2 separate regions of the Homo sapiens genome follow, and region 1 is linked to region 2. The links come from fine-mapping of genetic effects on gene expression. A gene starts in region 2. The other region holds a variant in brackets. All regions are shown on one strand. Distances are from middle to middle. Region 1 overlaps SPEG (striated muscle enriched protein kinase). Region 2 holds the start of SPEG (striated muscle enriched protein kinase).

The links.
Region 1: its variant is fine-mapped to the expression of SPEG in whole blood (TOPMed, PIP 0.92).

The regions. Positions count from the first base shown.
Region 1 is chr2:219,460,049-219,472,385 of GRCh38, forward strand. It overlaps SPEG (striated muscle enriched protein kinase), which reads left to right. Exons shown (of 41, transcript NM_005876.5): 7 at 1,834-2,009; 8 at 2,250-2,338; 9 at 4,385-4,560; 10 at 7,126-7,386; 11 at 8,530-8,688; 12 at 8,811-9,000; 13 at 9,108-9,331; 14 at 11,820-11,939; 15 at 12,179-12,283. Among named protein-coding and RNA genes, the nearest start is that of SPEGNB, 30 kb to the right of the region's middle. RefSeq lists a silencer at 634-814 and enhancers at 5,091-5,758, 5,759-6,424, 6,672-7,214. The variant T/C (reference allele first, on the strand shown) is at 6,034.
Region 2 is chr2:219,428,797-219,441,133 of GRCh38, forward strand. It overlaps SPEG (striated muscle enriched protein kinase), which reads left to right and starts at 6,047. Exons shown (of 41, transcript NM_005876.5): 1 at 6,047-6,569. The coding sequence starts at 6,182. RefSeq lists an enhancer at 354-3,443.

The DNA of each region.
Region 1 (12,337 bases), 31 kb after region 2:
GATAAGGGGCCATTTGGGGGAGGCAGCCCCCGCTGTCCTCTTTAGCGGGGCTAAGGTGGGTGGCGGGCAAGTTGCCAACAGGTGCCCTGGCGGTTTGGGTAGGAAGGCTGGATGTGGGCTTAGGCCCTGTGGTGGCTGCTGGCCAGACCTTCCATGGCAGGGATGAGGGGGCAGAGGTGGGATTCTGGGCCCCCTCAGATTCTTCCCCCACCTCTGTGAAGGAGGGCAAAGATCTTGACAGTTCTCCGATTTTCGGGGCCAAAGAAAACAGGTATGCCCTGGCTCTGTAGTATTTGAGGCTCGTTAGCGCATTCCCCGGTCAGGGATCTTGGTGGTTCCGTCAGAGCAAGGGGCAACACAGGGAACATTTCCCACGGGCACCTTCTTTGGTGGACGTGTCAGAACAAATGGGTCAGGGCAAGTGTCCCTATTGGCACAGCGCAGTGCCACCCCTCCCCTGTCTTGCTCGGGGACGGAGGCCCCACACCTTGAGTCAAGGCACCGCAGAGCGGGCTTTGCTCTTGTCAGGGTCTGAAGCTGTAAGGAGAAGAAAGGCAGATCCCGCGGCTTGGGAGTGAGCAGAGTGGCTAAATCCAGACGGCCGCGCTCCGCCCTCCCTCCCCTCTCCCCTCTCCTCCCCCTCCACACCAGGGCCCAGGCTGCCTGTGGTCTCGGCAGGCACCACCTTCCTAGCCAGCTGCCTGCCGGCCTGCCATCCAACCTCCTCCTTCCCCTCCTCAGGCGCCTTCCCCTCCCCCAGGGCCTTCTCCGTGCAGGGCCTCAGCTGGGTCAGCCGAGTGAGTGGGGCTGGGCAGGCTGGACAGGCTGGGCTCCTGCTCCCTGGGGAGCCACGCTGGGGTGGGCAGTGGGCAGGCAGCAGGAGGGCCTGGTGCCAGGGCAGAGCCTTCAGGACAGGCACAGGCTGGGGTCTGTGTGCAGAGCCTCGGGGTGAGTTGGGGTACAGCCCTGCTGGGGGCTTGGGGTGGGGGGACCCTGGGGAGAACCTAGGGGGCTGTGGCAGTTTCATGTCTGTATTTGGCAGTCGGATAGGAGCCAGCTCAGCGAGACTGGGACCCTGGCCAGTTGCAGGGGAGGGCGTCAGGGCCCTGGGGACACCCCTCCCCCAAGGCTGACTCTGGTGCCCCCCTCCTCTTCCCCCAGGCTGAGCTGCCCTTTTTGGTGGATGACTCCAGCTCTGCTTTCCTATCCCTCGAGCGTTTGGGGGTGCAAGCTGTAGGGCTGTGGCCAACAGGTGCCCCTGGGGTTTGCACGGCAGGAAGCTGAGAAGGGAAAGGGGGAGGGGCAGGCTAGATAGTGCCGCCTCATTGGCCCTGGACCGAGGTCGGGATGTGACTTGTCTGCGGTGTGTGTTCCTCTGCACCAGGCCCAGCTCACCCAAGAAATGGGCGTCCTAGCCATGCTGCTCCAGGGTTCCATAGACCTGCTTCCCCTGCTTTTGGAGCCTGCAGTTGGTAGTTTAGGTCTCTAGTCCATGTCAGGAATGTGGGTGCCCTGCTCCAGTGGAATTCTCCCACCAGGCCCAGGAGTGGCCCCTCTGCTGCCCGAACCCTTTGCCCCAGGCCTTTCCCTATGGTGTCCCCTCCTGGGAGGATCAGCAGGGTCGGTGTTGGCAGAGCCAGTGGCAGAGGAGGTTCCAGGGGCTCAGGGAGGGGAAGAAGCTGGGCGAGGTCGCAGGAGCCTGGGGGTGAAGTCAGGGCAGGGCCGGCCTGCGGGGAGCTGCCGCAACTCCTGGGCTCTGGGCGACATTCCAGCCAGCTCTCCCAGGCTCTCTGCTCGCCTTCCTCCCTGGTAGCTATCTCTGTCTCTCTCCAGGTGGGTCTACATCCCCTTTCAGCAGCCCCATCACCTCCGACGAGGAATACCTGAGCCCCCCAGAGGAGTTCCCAGAGCCTGGGGAGACCTGGCCGCGAACCCCCACCATGAAGCCCAGTCCCAGCCAGAACCGCCGTTCTTCTGACACTGGCTCCAAGGCACCCCCCACCTTCAAGGTCAGACCCCTGAGGCTGGGGCCTAGCCTCCTGTGTGCCCCCGTTCCTTTGGGTGCCCCCTTGTTCTTGGGGCCATGCCTAGGCAACATCAAGACCTGGAACTTTGCTCCCATTCAAACCCTCTTACCCAGAGCCAGTCTCAGCCTGGCTGTGGAAGAGTCCTCCGTCTCAGATTCCACAGCCCCCAGGACCCAAGGCTCTGCCCTGTCTTCCCCTGACACTTTGGGGTACCCCCTTCAGGTCTCACTTATGGACCAGTCAGTAAGAGAAGGCCAAGATGTCATCATGAGCATCCGCGTGCAGGGGGAGCCCAAGCCTGTGGTCTCCTGGTGAGTAGCCGCACTTTCCACCACCCACCAGCGACTCTATGCCAGGCCTGGCTCTGGGAGGTCTGGCTTTGGGTGGAAGGAAATGGAATCTTGGTGGGCTTCCCCATGATCTGCCTCAGGGGCCTCATCTCAGGGACAGCAGTGTACTCCCCCCGGCACCCTGTCCCTTGCCCCATGTTCCAGGCTTATTTAGGGCTTCCCCTTCTGGGGAGGGGTTTGGGTCTCATGTCTGTCCATTTGGGATAAATGACTGGGTGCGGTGGCTCACGCCTGTAATCCCAGCATTTTGAGAGGTGAGGCGAATGGATCACTTGAGGCCAGGAGTTTGAGACCAGCCTGGCCAGCATGGCGAAGCCCTGTCTCTACTAAAAATACAAAAAAATTAGCCAGATGTGGTGGTGCATGCTTGTAATCCCAGCTACTTGGGAGGCTGAGGCAAGAAGATTACTTGACCCTGGGAGGTGGAAGCTGTAGTGAGCTGAGATCACACCATTGCACTCCAGCCTGGGTGACAGAGTGAGACCCTGTCTCAAAAATAAAAATACCCCCTTCCCAAAATTAGCAAGGAGCAAGACATTTCAGAGGCCAAGGAAGGAGGATTGCTTGAGCCAAGGAGTTGAAGACCAGCTTGGGCAACATAGTGAGACTCTGTCTCTACAAAAACTTTTTTTAAATTAGCTGGACGTGGTAGTACATGCCTGTAGACCCAGCTACTTATGAGGGTGAGGAGGAGGATCACTGGAGCCCAGGAGTTTGAGGTTGCAGTGAGCTATGATCATACCACTGCACTCCAGCCTGGACAATATAGCAAGACCCTATTGCTGAAAAAAAAAAGACATGCAACAATTTGTTTCTGAGCTGCCAGCAGCCCCGAGTTAAATGTGGGTCTAAGCAGAGGGGCCTCGCTCATCCCAGGTGCCTGGAAGATGGATTACTCAGCTTGCTAATTTTTTATGGTTTGAATTCTGTTTTTCATTTTTAATTGATTGTCTGGTCCCCACTGTGATTTTTTTTTTTTTTTTTTTTTTTTTTTTTTTTTTTTTTAGCTGGAGTTTCACTCTTTGTCGCCCAGGCTGGAGTGCAGTGGTGCGATCTGGGCTCACTGCAACCTCCGCCTCCTGGGTTCAAGGGATTCTCCTGCCTCAGCCTCCTGAGTAGCTGGGATTACAGGCATGTGCCACCACACCCAGCTAATTTTGTATTTTTTGTAGAGGCAGGGTTTCTGGTCAGGCTGGTCTCGAACTCCTGACCTCAGGTGATCCACCCACCTCGGCCTCCCAAAGTGCTGGGATTACAGGCATGAACCACCGTGCCCAGCCCCCACTGTGATTTTTTTTTTTAACATTGTAAGTTTTTTCATATCCCTTTTGGGAAGTGGGAAAGCTATCTGTCCATTATAAATAAATAAAAATAAGACATGGGGAAGTTTAAGAATTATTAAGAGCTAAATAGGGTCAGGCATGAGGGCTCAATGTCTGTAATCCCAGCACTTTGGGAAGCCAAGAGAGGAGGATCATTTGAGCCCAGAAGTTCAAGACCAGCGTGGACAACATGGTGAAACCCTGTATCTACAAAAAATACAAAAATTAGCTGGGCATGGTGGCGTGTGCCTGTAGTCCCAGCTACTCAGGAGGCTGAGATGGGGAGATCGCTTGAGCCTGGGGAGGTAGAAGCTGCAGTGAGCTGTGATTGTGCCACTGCACTCCAGCCTGGGTGACAGAGGGAAACCCTGTTTAAAAAAAAAAAAAAAAGACAAGAAAAAAGAGCTAAATAGCACGGCTCCACTCTGAATGCAGCAGGGTTCCGAGAAGGGAGAGCTGCAGGCAGTTAGAAGTGACCTGGAAGCTCCTAGAGGTGGGTGGGATGGCAGAGTGGGGGTAAAAACCTAGCCCTGGAAACCAGGGATGCCCACGGTCAGTGGGACAGATCTGGGGACTGGGCAAACTGCACAGGGAAGGAGAGGCCTGCACAGTGCTGCAGCCCCAGTTCCTGTGCACGCACATCAGGCCCCTGGGCCCTGGGACTGAGTTCTTGCCCCTCTGACAGGCTGAGAAACCGCCAGCCCGTGCGCCCAGACCAGCGGCGCTTTGCGGAGGAGGCTGAGGGTGGGCTGTGCCGGCTGCGGATCCTGGCTGCAGAGCGTGGCGATGCTGGTTTCTACACTTGCAAAGCGGTCAATGAGTATGGTGCTCGGCAGTGCGAGGCCCGCTTGGAGGTCCGAGGTGAGTACCTGATTTCTCCATGAATGCCCACCTGGCCCTGGCCCCTTCCTTCCCCCACTGTCTGCTCTCACACAGCCTCAGTTAGAGGATGCCACCACTGAAAGGGCCTTAAGGGGCCCCTAGTCCAGCTGCTTATATTATTGTTGAGTGAACCAAAGCCCAGAGACAGGAAGTGACCTGCCCAAAGCTGCACAGCACATTGTTCCGTGCTCAGCTTACTACACAACACCACCTTCCCTGTTGCTCCATCACGGAGCCCTGGCGGCAGCCAGAGACCCTGCACCTGCCACTGGCCAAGCTCTCTCTACACTCTTCTGAGCCTTTGTCACCCTGCTCTGCCCAGGACCCTCCCTCATCCCCCTCCCCCTCTCCTCTCGCCCCTTTGCCCACCCTCCCATCCCATTGCTGTGCAGAAGCTACTGTGAGGTAGCGGTGGGGAGAGTCTGGTGGCTGGACCCGTTCGGAGGGGCCCTTGGGGTGGCTTAGGCTTGGAGCATCACAGGGACCCTAGGGTGCCAGGGTGAGCACAGCTGTGACGTGTGAAGAGGCCTGGGCCCCCAGAGCCTGGGGCATATGTGCAGGGGCCCTCTCAGGCAGCAGAAATGCCAGGCCCTGGCTAGGGGGCCCTCGAGGGCCATGGGTTTTCCTCCCCAAAGGCCACAACCGTTTATCTTGCCTTCCACCTCACCCTTCGCCTCAATGGCTCCTCGCTTCCTCTCCTCGCTTCTCACTCAGCCCCCAGCCCCTGACCTTCCCCAAGGCTCAGAGCTCAGACCCTGACAGTCATGGTCCCTCTGCTGGCCCCCCTGCCTCAGTTCCCCTCCTCTGTGCCTGCCGTTCCTGTAGTTGCCACTTCCTTGGTCTCCAGATTCTTCAGCCCTCCTCCCCGGCCTGCTTTCTCTCCAGGGCCTGGCTCTGCCTCGCTTCTCTGTATTAACCCATGTCTTGGTGCTTCTTTCTCTTGGGGATTCCTTCCGACACCCCCAGGCTTTGGGGTGCTCCTGATCCCATGAATGCCTGGTTGCCCGGGGTCTCTGCCTGCCCAGGAACCCCGAGGAACCAGTCTCTGGCTAGCTGCCGGCCCTCGCAGCCCAGAGCTGTCCTTGGGGGAGCCAAGAGTGGCAGTGCTGCCCTGACGGTGTGAGAGGCAGCCCTCTATGCAGAAGGGCCCTAGCCAGGTCTGCGTGCCTGTGCGTGCATGTGTGCGTGTGCGTGCGCATGCGTGCGTGTATGTGCATGCATGTGTGTGCATGTGTGTGCGTGTGTGCGTGCGTGTGCATGTGTGCGTATGGGTGTGTGCATGCGTGTGTGTGTGCGCGCGTGTGCGTGCACGTGTGCGTGCATGTGTGCGTGTGCATGCGTGTGTGTGCATGTGTGTGTGTGCGCGTGCGTGCGCGTATGCTGCACTAACCTGCCGCTTGCTGACTGAGGTTTTTGTCTGTACACAGGCGAGTGAGCTCAGGGGGCCACCTG[T/C]GCTCCCCCCGCTACCCTCCGAGCCGCGCCCCTGTCTCAGGCACCTCTCGGACCTCGCTGTGTTTCACTGCCTCCTGCCCACAGACCCAGGCCTGCCGGCCCGGACCCGTCCCAGCCTCCCCTCCCCACCCCATGCAGCCCCCAGGGGGATAGCCCATGGGCCCCTGTGGACCCTCCCTCCCCAAGTGGACACATGGCTGTGCAGGCCAGGAGGCCCACAGATGGACTGAGTGCTGGGAAGGGGCGGCTGCGAGGGGTATCAACCCCCCGAGTCTCTCCCTGAAGGGGAGCACCGGGCGAGTGCATGTGCTACTGCTGCTACAGGCCTGTCTATCTGTTTGTCTGTCTGTGTGTCTGTGACAGTCAGGGAAGGATGCCTCGGAGCTGAGGTGGGGTGAGACAGAGTGGGAGAGATTACGGCATGGCATGGAGGGGCCCAAGGAGCAGGGGCTGTTGACAAAGGCCTTACCAGGAAGGGTTAGGACACTGACCATTCTAGAAATGGGTTTCGAATGGCACAACACTTTCTATTTCACAAAAGACCAAAAGCCAGAGGCCCCAGGCTCTGTGCTGATGAACAGCCTGGCTGAGCCCTGGCCCTGGCAGGTTTAGGGCCCATTTGGGGCCCCCTCCTTCTCTGTCAGGGCTGGGGTGCTCTGTCTGGGAATGAGGGAGTTAACCAAGTTTGGTGCAGGAGCAGGGGCAGGGGGCCACTGTAGTGAGCGTGGAGAAATTTGGAAACACCTATTTCTTAACTCAAATAAAGTCCAGTTTGTACCTATCTGGTGTGTTGTGTTTTTTTTTCCCCCGCCGATGTCTCTGCCACCACGTGGCCCTCTCAGTTTCCCCTCCCTCAGTTCCCTCTTGCCTCCATGAATCACCCTCCCTGGCCCAGCTTGGATTGCCATCTCAAAGCCAGGTCTGGGCATGCCTTGCTGTCCTGGCCAGGTGGGTGGGCTTTCCCCATCTCCAGAGAACAAAATGCATCTCTCTCTCTGTGTCTGTCTGTCTCTCTGTGCGTGCGTATGTGTGTCTCCCTCACCCTGTGTGTCTCTGCTCTGTGCGTGGCCCCCGTGGCTGCTTTCCCCTCAGCACACCCTGAAAGCCGGTCCCTGGCCGTGCTGGCCCCCCTGCAGGACGTGGACGTGGGGGCCGGGGAGATGGCGCTGTTTGAGTGCCTGGTGGCGGGGCCCACTGACGTGGAGGTGGATTGGCTGTGCCGTGGCCGCCTGCTGCAGCCTGCACTGCTCAAATGCAAGATGCATTTCGATGGCCGCAAATGCAAGCTGCTACTTACATCTGTACATGAGGACGACAGTGGCGTCTACACCTGCAAGCTCAGCACGGCCAAAGGTAACTCCCCACTCAGGCATTGGGCTGCCGTGGGTGCCCAAGAGCTGGAGGGAGGGGACTGGGGGTGTACAGTAAGATGCCTGGGAAACAGAGCTCCAACCCCGAGGGGAAGCGGGGGAGGGTGGGAGCTAGTACATTGCCTTGGCCTCAATAAAATAAGCACTTAGAATAGTGCATAGCACAAAGGAAAGGCCGCAACAGGGTTAACTGTTCCTAGGAGGGAGTGCATCTGCTGAGGTGAACGTGGGTTCCCACGCCTGCCCTGCAAGTCACCAGCCATATAACTTTGAACAAGTCACTTCATCTCTCTGAGCTTTAGCCTGTTCATCTGTAGAACAGGGATGGTGATCATTCCTCCTCTGTAGAGGGATTGGCAGGATTAATGAGATAGTTTATGTGAAGAACAAAGCACAGGGCCTGTCAAAGGGCCTTTCCAGGAGAGGGTAGGGCACTGAGCATTCCAGAAATGGGTTTCAAATGGCACACCTGCCTAATAAATGCCAGCCATTGTTACCACTGATGCTATCTCTGACCTGGGCCTGCCCACATGGAAGGGCAGAGATTATGGCACCTGCCTTGCTACGTTGTGGGTGATGAAGACCTAAGCGGAAGCTGGAGGGGCTTTAGAAGCAGGAGGGTGCATCGGGTCAACATAAGGGACCCTTATCTCCTCCAGAAGCTTCTTTGAGGGTTGGTAGGTGGGGCCAAGGGGCATCTGCTCTGGGTCTGGGGAAGGTGGCTAGGAGCATGGGCATGACCCCAGCACAGAGGAGAATTCTGAGAAGTAGATGGAGGAGGGGTGGGCTTGGCTTCTAGGACCCTATCAGAGCTGGGCTGTGCTTCATCCAGGGTGGGCAGGGTGAGGGGAGGAGGGGGGAGCTGGGGCCAGGCCCTGGGCTCAGGCCCTGGGCTCCTATGGAGTCCCCAGCCCACCATGGCAGTCTGCACCCACCCTTGCTGACCTCCACCCTCTCGAGGTCTAGTCTCTGGATCTGTGCCCACTTCCTCCCCTGAGTACCCAGAGCCTTTGCTGGGCTCTGCCCAGGCTCCAGCTTCCTGCTCAGCCTTAGGTCAGGAGTGGTGGGTTGGGATGCCTGGGCCTCCTTAGCCTTCCCTATCTCTGAGCTGCCCCCTGCCCCACAGATGAGCTGACCTGCAGTGCCCGGCTGACCGTGCGGCCCTCGTTGGCACCCCTGTTCACACGGCTGCTGGAAGATGTGGAGGTGTTGGAGGGCCGAGCTGCCCGTTTCGACTGCAAGATCAGTGGCACCCCGCCCCCTGTTGTTACCTGGACTCATTTTGGTACGGCCCCTGTGCTGCAGGTGTTGAGGGCCCCCCCAAGGGCCCAGGCGGCGATGGGGTGCACCCAGAGGGCAGGGCCCCTCACTGTGCCTGCTCTGCATTCCCACCCCTCCTTTCTGCAGGCTGCCCCATGGAGGAGAGTGAGAACTTGCGGCTGCGGCAGGACGGGGGTCTGCACTCACTGCACATTGCCCATGTGGGCAGCGAGGACGAGGGGCTCTATGCGGTCAGTGCTGTTAACACCCATGGCCAGGCCCACTGCTCAGCCCAGCTGTATGTAGAAGAGCCCCGGACAGCCGCCTCAGGCCCCAGGTACCACCGGGGCCCCAAATGATGCTGGGGCTGCCTGTGAGGGGCCAGCCCAGCCCTGGGGTGGGAGGCACGGCCCTGGGCCTGTGGGCAGCTGTGTGGTCTTGCAGCTCGAAGCTGGAGAAGATGCCATCCATTCCCGAGGAGCCAGAGCAGGGTGAGCTGGAGCGGCTGTCCATTCCTGACTTCCTGCGGCCACTGCAGGACCTGGAGGTGGGACTGGCCAAGGAGGCCATGCTAGAGTGCCAGGTGACCGGCCTGCCCTACCCCACCATCAGCTGGTTCCACAATGGCCACCGCATCCAGAGCAGCGACGACCGGCGCATGACACAGTGTACGTGTCTGGGAAGTTCCCCGGGAGTGTCCCCTGCAGCACCCACTTGGCTTGCAATGCCCTGCCCCTCTCCCCAGCTCTCCCCAGGCCTTTCCTCTGTAGCCTGACCAGGGACAGGGTGCCTGGGGGAAGGGAACCCGGAGGGACTGTGAGGTCATTGCCTCCCCTGCAAGCCCACACAGCACTCATCTGCTGAGTCACCCCTCAGTGCCCGTTAGCACTGACTGGGCAGGCAGTACTGCCTGCTACTAACCCGCATCGGGCCCATGAGCAAGTTACAGAAGCCCTCTGTGCCTCAGTTTCTCATCTGTAATTGGGTTGTTACGAGACTAAATCAGTTAATGCATATAAGCCCCAGAGCAGGGCCTGGCACCTGGCAAGCAGCTGGGAGGTGTGAAGTCTCAGTATTCTTGTTTTAGTAGCCATTATCATCAGCGGTGGTACTTCCTGGAGACATTGCAATGAAAAAGCAGGTGTGGGCAGTGTCTGGCATGGAAGGGATGCTCTGTCCAGGGTTGCTAACAAATAGCAAATAACGAAGAAGGGGCCAGGGGAGACACAGAGGAACGTATTTGGGTTGGTGTCCTCTTAGCCTGGGATACTTTCTTATGGGAGCATCTCAGTTCCATCCTTGAAGGAATCTGAGTCTTGTGTGAGAAGGTCTGCCCCCCTCCCATAAGACAGTGCCCACTCTTTGACCCACGATGATTTCCTCTTATGGCTGCAACATGACAAAGATCACTTTCATTAAGTGCTTTCTAAGTGCCAGGTCCTGAGAGCTAAAGGTATGACAAGGACCATCTTACCTTGCCACAGGCCTATAAGGCGGATACTATTAGCCCCATTTACAGATGGGGAAACTGAGGCTTAGAGAGATACAGGAAGCTGCCAAGAGGCAAGAAAGGACTGTCTGACCCTGGTGCCCAGCTCTTAACCAGGATGTCCCTGTCACCCATGCTGCATCCTCCCTGCCCACCCGCCTGCCCATCTCCAGTGATGCCACCCCGGCTCCAACCCCTGCCCACAGCCTCCCATGACTGTCATTCTCAGCAGCAGGCCTCCCTGTCTCCCAGTCTGCTCTGAGGCCCTGGGTGAGTGTCTGTCTCAGGATCTAAGCTGGCGTCTCCGCTTCTGCCTGTATCTGGGGTCACTGGCAGCCCTTGGCTTCTCTTCTCTTATAAATAGTGTCAGCAGAGATAAATGAATGGGTGACTGTTCTATGCAGAGATAACTGCAAAGAGAAGGGAAGGGTGTCTAGGGACAGCCCTGACATGAAGGAGGACAGTGCAGGCCTCCTCTCTGTGTCTTCGCCAGAGACAGCCTCCTTATCATCCAGGGAGCAGGGAGTAGGGAAAGAGCTTTGGAATCACATGGTACCAAGGTCAAACTATCATTTATTAGCCGTGGGACCTTGAACAAGTCAATATCTCTGACCTCATTGGTAAAATGGGGATAATTTTGTAGAGTTGTTGCAAGGATTCACGAGGGGGAAAGCATGTCAGGTACCTGGTATAGGCTGGGCACAGAGCAGGCAACTCTTGTAATATATCATAGAATGTATTTGGTACTTACTGTGTGTGAGGTTCTGGGTCTGGTGGGACAAGCAGATCTGACAACGTCAGCCCTCTCTTTAAGGAGCTTGCAGACCAGGTCAGGAGCTATGACTGATGCAAGAGGAAGAGCCCCCGCCCATGAAAAGCAGCGTGGGCCAGTGCCCATCGATGTGCAGGCGAGAGGGTTGGGGTCCTGGGAGGAGTCAGAGGATGAGGGGTAGAGAGCGGGCCAGGGGCAGGGGGGCTTCATGGGCTGTACCCACTTAAACTATGTCTTGAAGGACAAGGAAGCCTTAGGTAAGAGGAGAGCATTCCCCAAGGGAGGAATGTTGTGAGCAATGACCTGCAGATGGAACTCGGTGTCTCGTTCAGGGGCCTGATAGTTAGCCAGCATCAAGATGCAGAGGAGCAACAGAGACGTGGCTGGCAGGGAGTTTGGGTTGAGGGCTTTGCTGTCCTCCTGGAGGGCTTCCCTGCAGCTGTGCTGGAGACAGAATGGCAGTGGCCTTGGGGATGGAGAAGAAGGGCTTAGGGGAGGGGCCTTGGGAACAAAGCTTTGTTCGAGTTTTGACATAGAGGTTGTGACCATGCAGAGGTGGGAAGACGAGGGGCCAGTCAACAGAGGCAGGGACCCCAGAGGGTGGCCCAGTGTAGGAGGAAGAGAAGATGATAAGTTGCCTGGCCTGACACACTGGAGGGACAGACCAGAGGGGCCAGGGCAGATGTAGACTTGGAAGCCAGCCCGGGCCCAGACCCAGACTTTGCTGCACCATGGATGCACTTCTTGCTGCCTGCCCCATCCTTGCCCCATCCTTGCCCACTCGCCTCCTCCCTGCAGTGGATGGGGGTGAGGGACCAGGCCCGGGATGGCATGGGCCTACCCCTCAAGGTATCCTCCGGGCTCAGGCCCAGTGTCACTGTCCCTCCCCTCCCAGACAGGGATGTCCATCGCTTGGTGTTCCCTGCCGTGGGGCCTCAGCACGCCGGTGTCTACAAGAGCGTCATTGCCAACAAGCTGGGCAAAGCTGCCTGCTATGCCCACCTGTATGTCACAGGTGAGGCAGGCACCCTCGTGGTCAGCTGCACGCACAGCCTGGCCTCTGGCACTACGTGGGGGCTCAGGGAAAGGGGCCTCCACCCAGCTCCCTTCCCCTCCATCCCCTGGGGACCCTCTTGCCTTGCCCCTGCCCCTGCGGCTGAGCCCCCAGGCCCTAGCCTCCTGCCCTGAGGCTCGGTGATCCTGTGGGGCTGTTGGGCCCTTGGACCCAGCAGACATTCGAACTGCGGCTTTCAGATGTGGTCCCAGGCCCTCCAGATGGCGCCCCGCAGGTGGTGGCTGTGACGGGGAGGATGGTCACACTCACATGGAACCCCCCCAGGAGTCTGGACATGGCCATCGGTGGGTCAGGGCTGCACAGGGCCATGGGTGGGGAAGGGGTGTGGAGAAGGCAGG
Region 2 (12,337 bases):
TGGGATGGAGGAGGAGGGATGGGTAAGGGGCTTCTTATCCTTGAGTCTGTTGGGGGCCCTGGAGTCTGAGCCAGCTTCTCTGTGTTGGAAACACCTGGACAGGGCTGGGCTCAGGTGGATTAGAGGGGGTGTGTATATCTGTGAGTAGTTTCTGGAATCCTTCTTTCCCCTGAATGAGTTATGTGCACTTATCTGTCCCACAAAGGATAAAGGGACACATGGGTTAGGGGAGGTTTTGGAGGCAGTTCCCCTCCCACCCCCCAGCCCACCAAATGCTTAGGTATAGACTAGTCACTAAGGTGGAAGGAATGTAGGAATCTCAGGCTCTCAGAGTCAGACCTCAGAAGGCTCCCAGGCAATGATCCTTGAGGTGCAGAAACCCCCTTCTCAGCCCTGCCCCACATCCTTCATGAGCATTCCTCAAACTCTGCCTGAATGTCTCCAGAGCCCGAGAACTCACCGCTTCTTTGGTGGCCCCTTCCAGCTGGGGACAGTTCTGAAATAAAGCTCTTCCTTCTCAGCACACCTGTCTCCTGTGACTGCTACCCACTTGTCCCCAGAGAAGAAAGAAGGCCCAGAGCCACCCTCTATCCCCCAGGTGGGGAAGGATTCTTTGAGCACAGCCTGCCTGGAACTAGAAATTCTGGTTCTAATCTTTGCCTCTCTTCATAAGAGCTGAGCTGTGACCAAGGGAACCCAGAGAATGGGCAAATACAAACCAAAACAGATTTGGGTTTCCACCGGCTGCAGTGGCTCACATCTATAATCCCAGCACTTTGGGAGGCCAAGGTGGGAGGATCACTTGAGCCCAGGAGTTTGAGACCAGCCTGGGAAACTGCAAGACCCGATCTCTACAAAACAAAACAAAAACCCAACAACAGGGGCGGGGCACGGTGGCTCACACCTGTAATCCCAGCACTTTGGGAGGCTGAGGCGTGTGGATCACAAGGTCAGGAGTTCAAGACCAGCCTGGCTAACACAGTGAAACCCCTCTCTACTGAAAATACAAAAAAAAAAAAAAAAAAAAATTAGCCGGGCGTGGTGGTGGGTGCCTGTAGTCCCAGCTACTCAGGAGGCTGAGGCAGGAGAATGGCATGAACCCGGGAGGCGGAGCTTGCAGTGAGCCGAGATCGCGCCACTGCACTCCAGCCTGGGCAACAGAGGGAGACTCTGTCTCAAAAAAAAAAAAAAAAAAAACACCTCCACGGCAAAGCCTCTTCCTGCTCCTTGGGCTCTGGGGTCTTAACCTTCAAGACTCTGAACATCAAGAAGTAACAGGGCTCATAGAATGCTGATCGGCTTCCCACCGGACCCAAAGGATCAGGCCCAGACCAGCTCTGACCCCAGCAGACAGGGTGTAATGGAAGGGATCATGGAGGCAGGCACCATATGCCAGGACTGATGGATCAGCAGACATTTTCCTGCCTGTCTGTCCACTCCAGGTATATTTTCACCCCCGTCCCTTGAGGCCCCTGTCCTATTCTACTCATTCACCCCCTCCCTCCTTCCTCTCACCACAAGCTCACCCAAGGCACATCTGCAAATGCTTCAATAACCTTCGATTTAACACCTAAAACGTCAGCTACCTAAGGGTAGAATTTTAATCCATTTTATTCACTATTGTATCCCAAGTGCCCAGAAGAATGCCTGGAAGAATAGTAGGTACTCATTAAATATTTAAATACTTAATGAATGAATACCTACTGCGCACTTTTACTTACTTTTCTCTAAATTAAATATTCACCAGGAAGGGCTGATGGCCCCCACTTTATTCACTGATTCAATGAACACTTACTGAGATTTTTCCCATGTGCCAGGCATGTGGTACATCATTATGGCTTAAGAAGTGCCCAGTGGCACCTCCAGAGAGGTAGGGTGACCTGCAAAGGTCACACAGCAGTCTGTAGCAAAGGAGGACTGGGCTCCAGGCTCCCTGGCCTCTGGAGCTCAGATCTCTTTCCATGACACCAGAGGCTTGTGATCGCAAGACAGGGCAGACTGGCAGCACACACACCCAGCTAGGCGCCAGGCTGCAGGGCACTGTGGGGCCCATGCTGAGGGACAGACGAGTGACTTGCAGCCAGCTGTCCCAAGTGCCTGGCCTGGCCTGGCCAGAGCCTGACGGCTTCCAGCTGTCACAGCTAGTGTGGGCTCCTCCCAGAAGAGGGCACCAGTGACTTGCATGGACTTGTGCCCTCCCTACCCAGGCCCACAGACTCCTGCACGCAAATCAACGAATGCCCCAATTATGGATCTAGGAAGGCAGAAGGCAAGTCATGTTCCAGGCTCTGTGCCAGGCCCTTTTAAATAGTTAATCTTCATTTGAATATTTAATATAATAATTTAATGTCATTACTACAACGTAAGTCAGATCATGTAATTCTTCTGCTCAAAGCCCTAAGATGACTTCTCATTTCACCAGGAACAAAAGCGCCATGGCCTGCAAAATTCTAGGCCATCTGGCTTCTGCTGCCTGTCTGACCCATTTCCTTCCACTCTCCCCTTGCTCCCTCCATCCTCTCTGGCCTTCGTCTTGGAGCCCACCAGGCATATTCCCACCTCTGCCAGAAGCAGCCCTCCCCAGACATTTGCATCATTTGCTTTCTTACTCAAGATTGGCTCAAATGTTCCCAGTGGGGCCAACTCCAGCCACACCCTATTTGAAAGTGCAATCTCCCACCACACTCACATTTGCCTTAAGCTTTGTCCACAGTGCTTACCTCCTTGTAACAATCTTTACAGGTTCTTTCTTTTCCTTCCTTCCTTCCTTCCTTCCTTCCTTCCTTCCTTCCTTCCTTCCTTCCTTCCTTCCTTTCTCTTTCTTATCTTTCTTTCTTATTGAGATGGAGTCTCACTCTGTTGCCCAGGTTGGAGTGCAGTGGTGCCATCTCGGCTCACTGCAACCTCTGCCACCCGGGTTCAAGCAATTCTCCTGCTTTAGCCTCCCAAGTAGCTGAGATTACAGGTGTGTGCCACCAGGCCTGGCTAATTTTTGTATTTTTAGTAGAGATGAGGTTTCACCATGTTGGCCAGGCTGGTCTTGAACTTCTGACCTCAGGTGATCCTCCTGCCTCAGCCTCCCAAAGTGCTGGGATTACAGGCGTGAGCCACCGTGCGCAGCCTATTTCTTTGTATTTGTTGTTCATCTCTCTTCTCAAGTAAAAGCAGCATGGGAGCAGAAATCTTTGTCTGTTCACTGCTATATCCCTAGTCCCTAGCACAGTGCCAGTACATAGTAGAAACTCAAAAATATTTGTGGATGAATAAATAAAAAAATTATGGATGAATAAATAATTAAAACCCTGAGTTGTGCTACCTCCATTCTATAGATGAGGAAACCGAGGCTTAGAGATGCTAGGTAACTTGCTTGAGATCGCATCGTTCATTTATTCAACCAACTTACTAACCAGCCAACATTTACAGTCTACCCACTGCATTCCACACACATTTAGAGGCACAGTGTTGGGTGGCTTTGGGTTATTTGTTTTTCGAAATACTCTCTATTCCTTTTTTCTTGATGTACCATCTGTTTGCAATGACTTCCCCCATATTGTCACCTTCTAGAATTCAATTTACACTTTAGAATTCGATTCATCATCAGTGGTTGCCAGAGGTTGGTGGAGGGGGTCTATGGTAGAGTCTATGACTCCGAAGGGGGTACATGAGCTAGTATTTGGGGTGATGGAATTGTTTGCTCTGTATGGTCCTGGAGTGGCAGATACATGATTCTATGCATTTGTCAAAACCCAGAGAACTGCACCTCATAAAAAAATAAACTTTAGGCCAGGCACGGTGGCTCACACCTGTAATCCCAGTGCTTTAGGAGGCTGAGGCAGGCAGATCACCTGAGGTCGGGAGTTCGAGACCAGCCCGACCAAAATGGAGAAACCCCGTCTCTACTAAAAATACAAAATTAGCTGGGTGTGGTGGTGCATGCCTGTAATCCCAGCTACTCGGGAGGCTGAGGCAGGAGAATTGCTCGAACCCGGGAGGAGGAGGTTGTGGTGAGCCGAGATCACACCATTGCACTCCGGCCTGGGCAACAAGAGTGAAACTCCGTCTCAAAAAAAAAAAAAACTTTAATGTATGCAAACTGTAAAAAAAATTATTCCTCAAGGTTCTTAACCTCTATGGATGTAATTCAGTGTTTAAATGGTTCCTCCTATACCTTTTACACACTGTCTCTCGCGCTCTCTCTCTTTCTCTTTGACTTCAGTATCCCAGAATGAGGATGGGGAAGAGGAGGCAAGGGTAAGAGTAACATTCTCTGCCTCTGAATACTCATGGCTCCTCTCAGCCCTTCCTGGGTTTCATCCCTCAGGGCTCAAGGTCAGGCCTGGGTCTCCTACTTGGACTTCTTAAAAAATTTTTTACTTTATGATAACTGTAGATTCACAGGCAATTATAAGAAATAATGCAGAGAGATCCTGAATTACCTTCACTTGGTTTCCTCCTAGGGTAACATCTTGTATGACTATAGTACAGCATCACAACCAGGAAAGGGGCATTGGTATAATCCACCTACCTTCTGCAAGTTTTACCAGTGTTACATGTACTGTTAGTGTTGCGTACAAGTGCAAATGCACATTTAGTTCTATGCAACTTTATCACTTGTGTAGATCCACATAACCACCACCATTACCACTGTCAAGATACAGAACTGTTCTGTTTTTGTTTTGTTTTGTTTTTTGAGACAGAGTCTCACTCTGTTGCCCAGGCTGCAGTGCAGTGGTGCCATCTAGGCTCACTGCAACCTCCACCTCCCAGGTTCAAGCGATTCTCCTGCCTCAGCCTCCTGAGTAGCTGGGACTACAGGCATGAGCCACTACACCTGGCTAATTTTTTGTATTTTTAGTAGAGACAGGTTTCACCATGTTGGCCAGGCTGGTGTTGAATTCCTGAGTTCAAGTGATCCACCCACCTCGGCCTCCCAAAGTGCTGGAATTACAGGTGTTAGCCACCGCGCCCAGCCAAGATACAGAACTGTTCTATCACAAAGGTCTCATCTGGACTCTTGATGTTTCTCAACGTGCAACACTTAGGCACATCAGAATCAGTTGAGTCATTTGTTAAATGTGCAGATTCCTCCCAGCTCAGCTGCTGAACCAGTGTGGGGCAAGGAGGCTGGGAATCTGGCCTTTACTTGAACTGGCCGTCATTTCTATCCATCCTCCACTTTGTGGCCGCCAAGAGGATCCTCCTAAGACACAGCTCCCACCGTGTTTTTTCTGCCGCTTAAAGCTGTGTAGTGGCGCCCCCTGCTTTCAGGGTAGAGAAACCAAAGCCTTAGCAAACAAAGCCTTCTCCAGGCCCCACCTCCCTTCTTCCACTCACCCCACCCACTACGCTTCAATCCCTCCAAACCTCTCTAATTCCCAGGACGCCTTTGTTTTCATCAGGCTCATTTTGTTCATGCCGTTCCCTCTGCCTGGAATGTCCTGCCCACTCTTTTCTGCCTATTGCAACCCTATTCCACCACCCATTCTTACAGATGAGGACTTGGAGGTTGAGAGAGGTTTGGTGTCACCCAGCAAGTAAGGGCAGGGCGCAGTGGAGGCCCCAATCCACCTGACTCCCAGGCTCCTGGTCTTACTGTTCGCCAGCTGTAATGGAGGCGCTGGGGGAGGCCATGGTCCCTCTTCGGAGCTGTCTGCTCACCTCCACTTGGGCCTGCCTCCCCATCCACCTCTCAGGCATCTCACCAGGACCGTTCCTCTTCTTCCCCTCCCAGCGAAGCCGGGCAGGGATGAGGGGTCTGAGATGAGGGAGGAAGGGAAATGGGATTGAGCCCAGGGGTAACCTGACTCCCTGCAGTGGGTCGTGTGGGGGCCAGGCACACTACGGAGGGGAAAGCCTGGAACAAATACCGAGGGACTCCCTTAAGCCGGGCCGGCGATGGGGGCTCCTGGAGGGAGAGAAGGAGCCAAGTGGAGTCAAGTCCCTCCCCTGCTGCCCCCTCCCTCCACGGCTCCCTCGCAACCCGAGCCGGGGGGCCTAAAAATAGCCCCCAGGCGCAATCGCCGGCCGCCCCGGTGACCTTCTGGGTAGCACAGGCCGAAGGCGGGCGGGCAGCAGGAAGGCAGGCCGCCGGCCCCCCAGACTTGTCTCCTAGGGCACCGTCCCGCGGGTGCCCCCGTGGCCGCCCAGTTCCGGCGTCCCCCCAGCCCAGCTCTCAGTGGCCATGCAGAAAGCCCGGGGCACGCGAGGCGAGGATGCGGGCACGAGGGCACCCCCCAGCCCCGGAGTGCCCCCGAAAAGGGCCAAGGTGGGGGCCGGCGGCGGGGCTCCTGTGGCCGTGGCCGGGGCGCCAGTCTTCCTGCGGCCCCTGAAGAACGCGGCGGTGTGCGCGGGCAGCGACGTGCGGCTGCGGGTGGTGGTGAGCGGGACGCCCCAGCCCAGCCTCCGCTGGTTCCGGGATGGGCAGCTCCTGCCCGCGCCGGCCCCCGAGCCCAGCTGCCTGTGGCTGCGGCGCTGCGGGGCGCAGGACGCCGGCGTGTACAGCTGCATGGCCCAGAACGAGCGGGGCCGGGCCTCCTGCGAGGCGGTGCTCACAGTGCTGGAGGTCGGAGGTAAAGGGCAGGTGGGGGCCGCGCCCGGCAGGGGCGGGGTGCTCAGAGGTAGAAAAGGGCTGCCCAGGCCACGCGGGTAAGGTACTGGATACTGGTTCCGCCGCCTTCTTCCCAGGTGCCCTGGCTTCTCGGCTGCCCGGCCCCAGAAGTGAGACGAAGAGCCAAGTGCAGGGAATGGGGTGTCAAGGTAGAGAGGCTCCCCACAGGAAGGTCAGAGGTCAAGGGGCAGCAAGCGGTTGATAAGCCAAGCCTGAGACCCACTCCCACCTCTCAGGGAATTCTGGGGTGGAAGTTCTTCTCCTCCTGTGGAGAAAAGCCTCCTGGGGGAAAGGGTGTCCTTCAGTTCCATGATTTAAACTTGAGATTGACACTCCGATCAGCTCCTTAACAGGGGAGTCCATGTCCGAAGGAGGGGGCCAGCTCCTCTGGTCCAGGCTGCACTGTTGAAGGGATGGCTCAGAGCTCCCTGCAGGCCATTGCCGTGGCAGGGTTGATGTGGTCAGCTCTAGGTGGGGTGTGGAAGAGGCCTATGGTTGGCCACGTGTGAACAGGGTCCAGGGTAGGAGGAGGTGGAGCCCGAGCCAGGGCCCCATGGGCATGAATGGAGGTGAGTGCTTGAGAATCCACATGCAGGTGTGTGCCTGCATGGGTGCTGTGGAGGGCCCTGGATTCTGTGTGGTGGTGCAAACAGGTGAGGTATGGGCACGTGGAGCTGGAATGGGAAGCTCCTGGACCATGTCTACCTGAGCTTCCAGAGTGGATGTTTCCAGAGCATGGAAGGGGGATGCTATGGACCAGTGCTTGTCCCCCGCCCATAGATTTCCAGGTGCAGTGTGAAGAAAAGGCTGAGGGTCTGAGGCAGAAGGGGAGGGCAAGAGGCTGGGCCCAGTGCTCATGGTCCAGCTGGGGCTACCATGGAGGCCAGGCCAGGGCCGTTAGCCTTGGATCCATTTGGGGGCTTCCTTTTTGATTTCCTCAGTCCTTGAGTAAGCCAAGTGGTACTTCTCTAGCCAAAGGCAGAGCCTTGGGCAGGCTGCGCCTTGAGAAACAGAATTCTGAGGAAGTAGGCTACAGCTGGGAGAGATGGCAAGGAGCTGGGGGTTCACTCCCTTGGACGTTTCTAAGAGGGACATGTCACTCCCCTGGGTGCTGCTGTGTAGGGGTAAATCCTTGGAGGCTGGGGAGGAGGCACAGGGAGGAAAGCCCTCAGCAGCAGGTGGGCAAGAAGTCTCTAGGACACAGCCAAGTCAGGAGAGGGAGCCGGGCTGGCCTCCCTCCATCGGCATCTCCTCCCCCCAGCCCTGCTCTGCCCACCTTCCTGGAGTCTCTGTGGCCAGGCCTGGGCCAGAGAGGGCCAAGGCTGGCGTCTCCTGGTTGGCCTAGCACCTGGACAAGTACAGGCCTCCCGAGCCTGGGATCAGGGGATGGGGTGCATTCTAGCAGACTTCGGAGCTGGGGAAGGTGTGGACTCCTTGGGGATCTCAGCTCTGGTCCCCCCAGGGGCAAAGAGGGCTGAAAATAGAACATAGATCAAAGGGTAAGATAGATGAGTTGATGAGAATATGACTGGGGGAGAGATTAGGGAAGGGAACGAAAGAGCTGACAAGGAGAGTAACAGTCATAATATAAGTTAAGGTTGGAAAGGACCACAGAGAACTGCAGCTCCAAACACATCCTTTCACAGGCAAGGACACTGTGGGCCAAAGATCAGGGAGCTCTGCCTAAGACGTACTAGTCTAGTTAGAGACATAGCTAGTTATGGCCATCCCAGAACTAAGAACCCAGTCCTCCTGGTTTTGGTTCTGGGGGCCTTGTACTCCTCAAGAAGTTCTGGAGAGAGAGGAAAGAGCGAGAGAGGGAGGGAGAGTACTGGGAAAGTAGCTGTCACATGATTGGCCCAGGCCTGGCATTTCTCAAGATGGATGTCTCCTGGCCTGCCTTGGTCCCTCAAAGTGGTAAGTGGTGATGAGGTGTGAGAGCCCCCAGCAGGGCTGTTTGCTCAGCCTCTCTGCAGTCTTGGTGGTGTGGTCAGCAGCGCTGAGCCTGGCTGGGCGTACCTAGACAGAGGCCAGGCTGACAGTGTGCAGGCTGGGCTGCTCTGGTGGAACAGCAGGCTTGAGAGGCTTGGGGTAAGAAAAGGGCCCTGGGTGTTGTGGGGCTGGATCAGGGGCCCTTTGACATTCATATGAGAATAGGAAGAGGACTGGGCTGCAGCAAATAACCTTTGAGAACATGTCCTGATTGTGTAGATAGAAGGTGGCAGAACAGGTGGAGGCCTCAGTCTGTCCCACTGCAAAGAACCATGTGTGTAACTATTACACCTATCCCACATGCTTTGGAGGAGGGAGGGGCTTTGCTTTGGTGATGCTGGGGGACTGACTGGGTGAATCTGGCTTCCTATCCCTTCTGTTGCCCACCCCCACCAGCCCCTGCCCAGTGATAGCTCCTGCTCCAGGGCAGCCGGGCAAGCAGCTCGGCATTGCTCAGACTTACTCATGGAAAACTTTCTTGGTTGGAAACAACAGCAGGAGGACTTCAGGGTACTCGAGGAAGCCAAGCAAGGACCTGGCTGCAGACGGAAGGACATGCTTTCCTGGCTGGGATTGCTGGCTCAATAAGACAAAGTGATGCTAGGTTCCTGGCACTCCTGAAGCCGGATATGTTAGCTCAAGGATGGAAGGATTTGGGCATGGCTCTGGAAAGTTGGGGTCATGAGAAGGCAAGTGGGCTACAGCCTGGAAAATTTGGAGGATGGGAAACTGGGGGTGGTGGTGCTGAGATTTGGGGGATGTAGAAATGAGGGAAGAATCGGAAACAAAGGAGGTGAAGATAGCAGAAATGCAGGATACTTGTAGAATCCTTAACATGCGTAAGTACCCTGTCTCATTTAATTATTTAATCTTCCAAACCCTAGGTTACTGTTATGACCATTATTCATATAGAAAAACTGGGGTTCAAAGAGGAAATTTACCTAAGTTCCCATGGCTAGTGAGGTGCCAGAGCCAGGTCTGAAAGCCAGGTATCTGAGTCTGGGTCCATACTGCTTGTCCACAGAAAGAGAAGTGTGGGAAGACTGTCAAGGATTTGTCATCGTCACCATCTTTCTCCGTCAATATCTCCAAATCCATCTCTGGCCTAGTCTCCAAGATAGGCAGGCATTCTTCTTTTTCAAAATATCAGGCTCCCACTTGCACAGGCTGAGGAGCCACATGCAAATCCAGAGACCACAGCAAGTGCTACCCTCAAAGCTGTGGGTGTGCGTGTGTGGCTGAAGAGCAGACCTGCACTAAAGGGCAGAGGGGAAGCAGGAGAAGGCACAGCCGAGAGAAGAGGTGAGCTGATGATGCTCACATGGTGTGTTAGTTGGAGCTTCATAGCTAGGGTCTGGAAGATTCTGGTGTTAATCAGAAGGGCCAAAGATCAAAACATGGTAATGAACCATCCTGGGGACTCAAAGGCTTGGAGAGGAGAGCTTAGAGATAGGGAGAGAGGGCCAACTTAGGCAAGGAAAGGGTAGAGGAATGTACCAGAACCTGTGTTGAGGAATATTCTGCAGTTATTCTTTTTCACCTGGAATTTAGAATGTCTGGCTAGAGAAGCCAGGTGGAAAGTAGTATGGAGCTGGGAATGGGTATGGGGAGTGTCAACATGCATGCATGCCAAGTGCTGACCAGTGAGCGGAGGAGAGGCCAGAGTGGGAGCAGAGAGGAGCTCTGGGACCCTCTCCAGGGGAATCCTGAGTGGAATGAGAGATGGTCACTTTTCTGGCTAAAGACCTCTGGGGACAGAATATGGGTTAGGACAGAGAAGGGGGAAGGCTGGATGAGTGGAAGCCGTTGCAGGAAGATTTACTGTCCCCGTTCCCATCACTGCTTACCCTCTCCACCTGCAGCTCTGCCACCCCCTCCCATATTTATTGAGTGCCTACTATGTGCTTTTGATACACGAGTCAGGGGGTTGAGGGAGACCAAAATTTATGTCCTCCAGGGGATAACTTTCTAGTGAGGGGAGACAGACAATACACAATAAACATAGTAAATAGGTAAATTACACAGTATGTCAGAAATACAGAGCAGGGTCGTAAATGAGAGAAGGGAGAAACTGAACTGAGGCAGGAAAGAGGAGACAAAAGGGAGGTGGGGTGGGAGCTTGTGGCATAGGATGGAGATTTGGATTTTCTCTGGTTGGAGGGAAATGCTGGCAGTGCAGAAATTGGAAGTCTGGGTTTGGGGGAGTGGCAGGGAGACACAGCTGCCCAGCTATGGGAGAAAAATGGGGCAATCTGGGGCCAGCTGGGGAGGCCCACCCAGAGAGCATGTTCCAGGCCAGCCCTTCAGGAGTGAGCAGTGCCGACCCAGAGCAGGAACACAGAATCCTGCCGGCCCCTCCTGGGCCCAGCTGTCCCGTCACTCACGCCCGCTGCCCATTGGTTATTTTTGCTACGGAATGTGCCAGCCCCTTGGATTCTCCTGGGGAACAGGGGCTCAAGTTACCCCCTCTCATCACTCAGCTCCCCATCTGTGAGTGGGTGTGTTTAGGGGTGTACATGGAAAGTGCCCATGGGTGTCCAGGGTCCTCTGGCTGGAACGAGTGTGGACACACATATGTGCCCTCTCAGCACACGTCCCTGTGCATGTGTCTGTACTTGTAATTTGCTTTGATGCTCTAGGAAACAAGAACACCTGTATGCACCCAGAATGTACAAGACATGACCTAAACTTTAGAATAAAAGAGCAGCCAGGTGCGGTGGCTCATGCCTATCATCCCAGCATTTTGGAATGCCGAGGCAGGAGAATAGCTTGAGCCCAGGAGTTCGAGACCAGCTTGTGTAAGATAATAAGACTTCATCTCTACTTAATATTTTTTTAAAAATTAGCTGGGCATGATGGCATGCACCTGTAGTCTCAGGTACAAGGGGGGCTGAGGTGGGGGGAATCTCTTGAGCCCAGGTGGTCAAGGTTGCAGTGAGCCATGATGGCACCGCTGCACTCTAGCCTGGACAACAGAGTGAGACCTAGTCTCTAAAACAATAAAGAAATCTAAAATAAGATAAAGGGGCCACAGACTCAAATAACTGCAGGGGTCAAGTAGAAACTGAAAATGAGGGAGGTGCGCTGAGCTCAGGCATGATTGCTCCAGCCCAAACATTGTGCAGGCTGAACAAAACTCATCAGTCTGTCCCTGTATTTATTTTATTTTATTTATTTATTTATTTATTTATTTATTTATTTATTTATTTAAAGCAGAGTCTTGCTCTGTCACCCAGGTTGGAGTACAGTGGTGCGATCTCTGCTCACTACAACCTCGCCTCCTGGGCATAAGTGATTCTCATGCATCTGCCTAGGTTGGAATTCTGGCTCCCTCAATTTATTGGCCATGTGACCTTGGGCAAGTAACCTCTCTGTGTCTCAGTCTTCCTCTTGTCGTGAGGATTAAATGAGCTCATTCACATAGAGTGCTTAGCACAATGCCTGGTACATACCAAACACGCAATAACTGTTAATAGTTACTTAGTAGTCACAGCTCAGAAATCAGGATTGGCACTACCTGTGCTCACTGGGATGATAATTCCCATCTCCAGGACACATGGAGTCCTAGAACCTGTATGGCTTTGACTAAGTGATAGGACTTCTCTGAGACTCAGTCACTTGTCAGTTAAATGGGTATAGGATTATTCATAAGGGTTTCCAGCTCATGGGGTTATTGTAAATGAGGTAACATTTGTAAAGTGCCTGGCACTTAGTAACTGCTAAACAAACATAGCTATA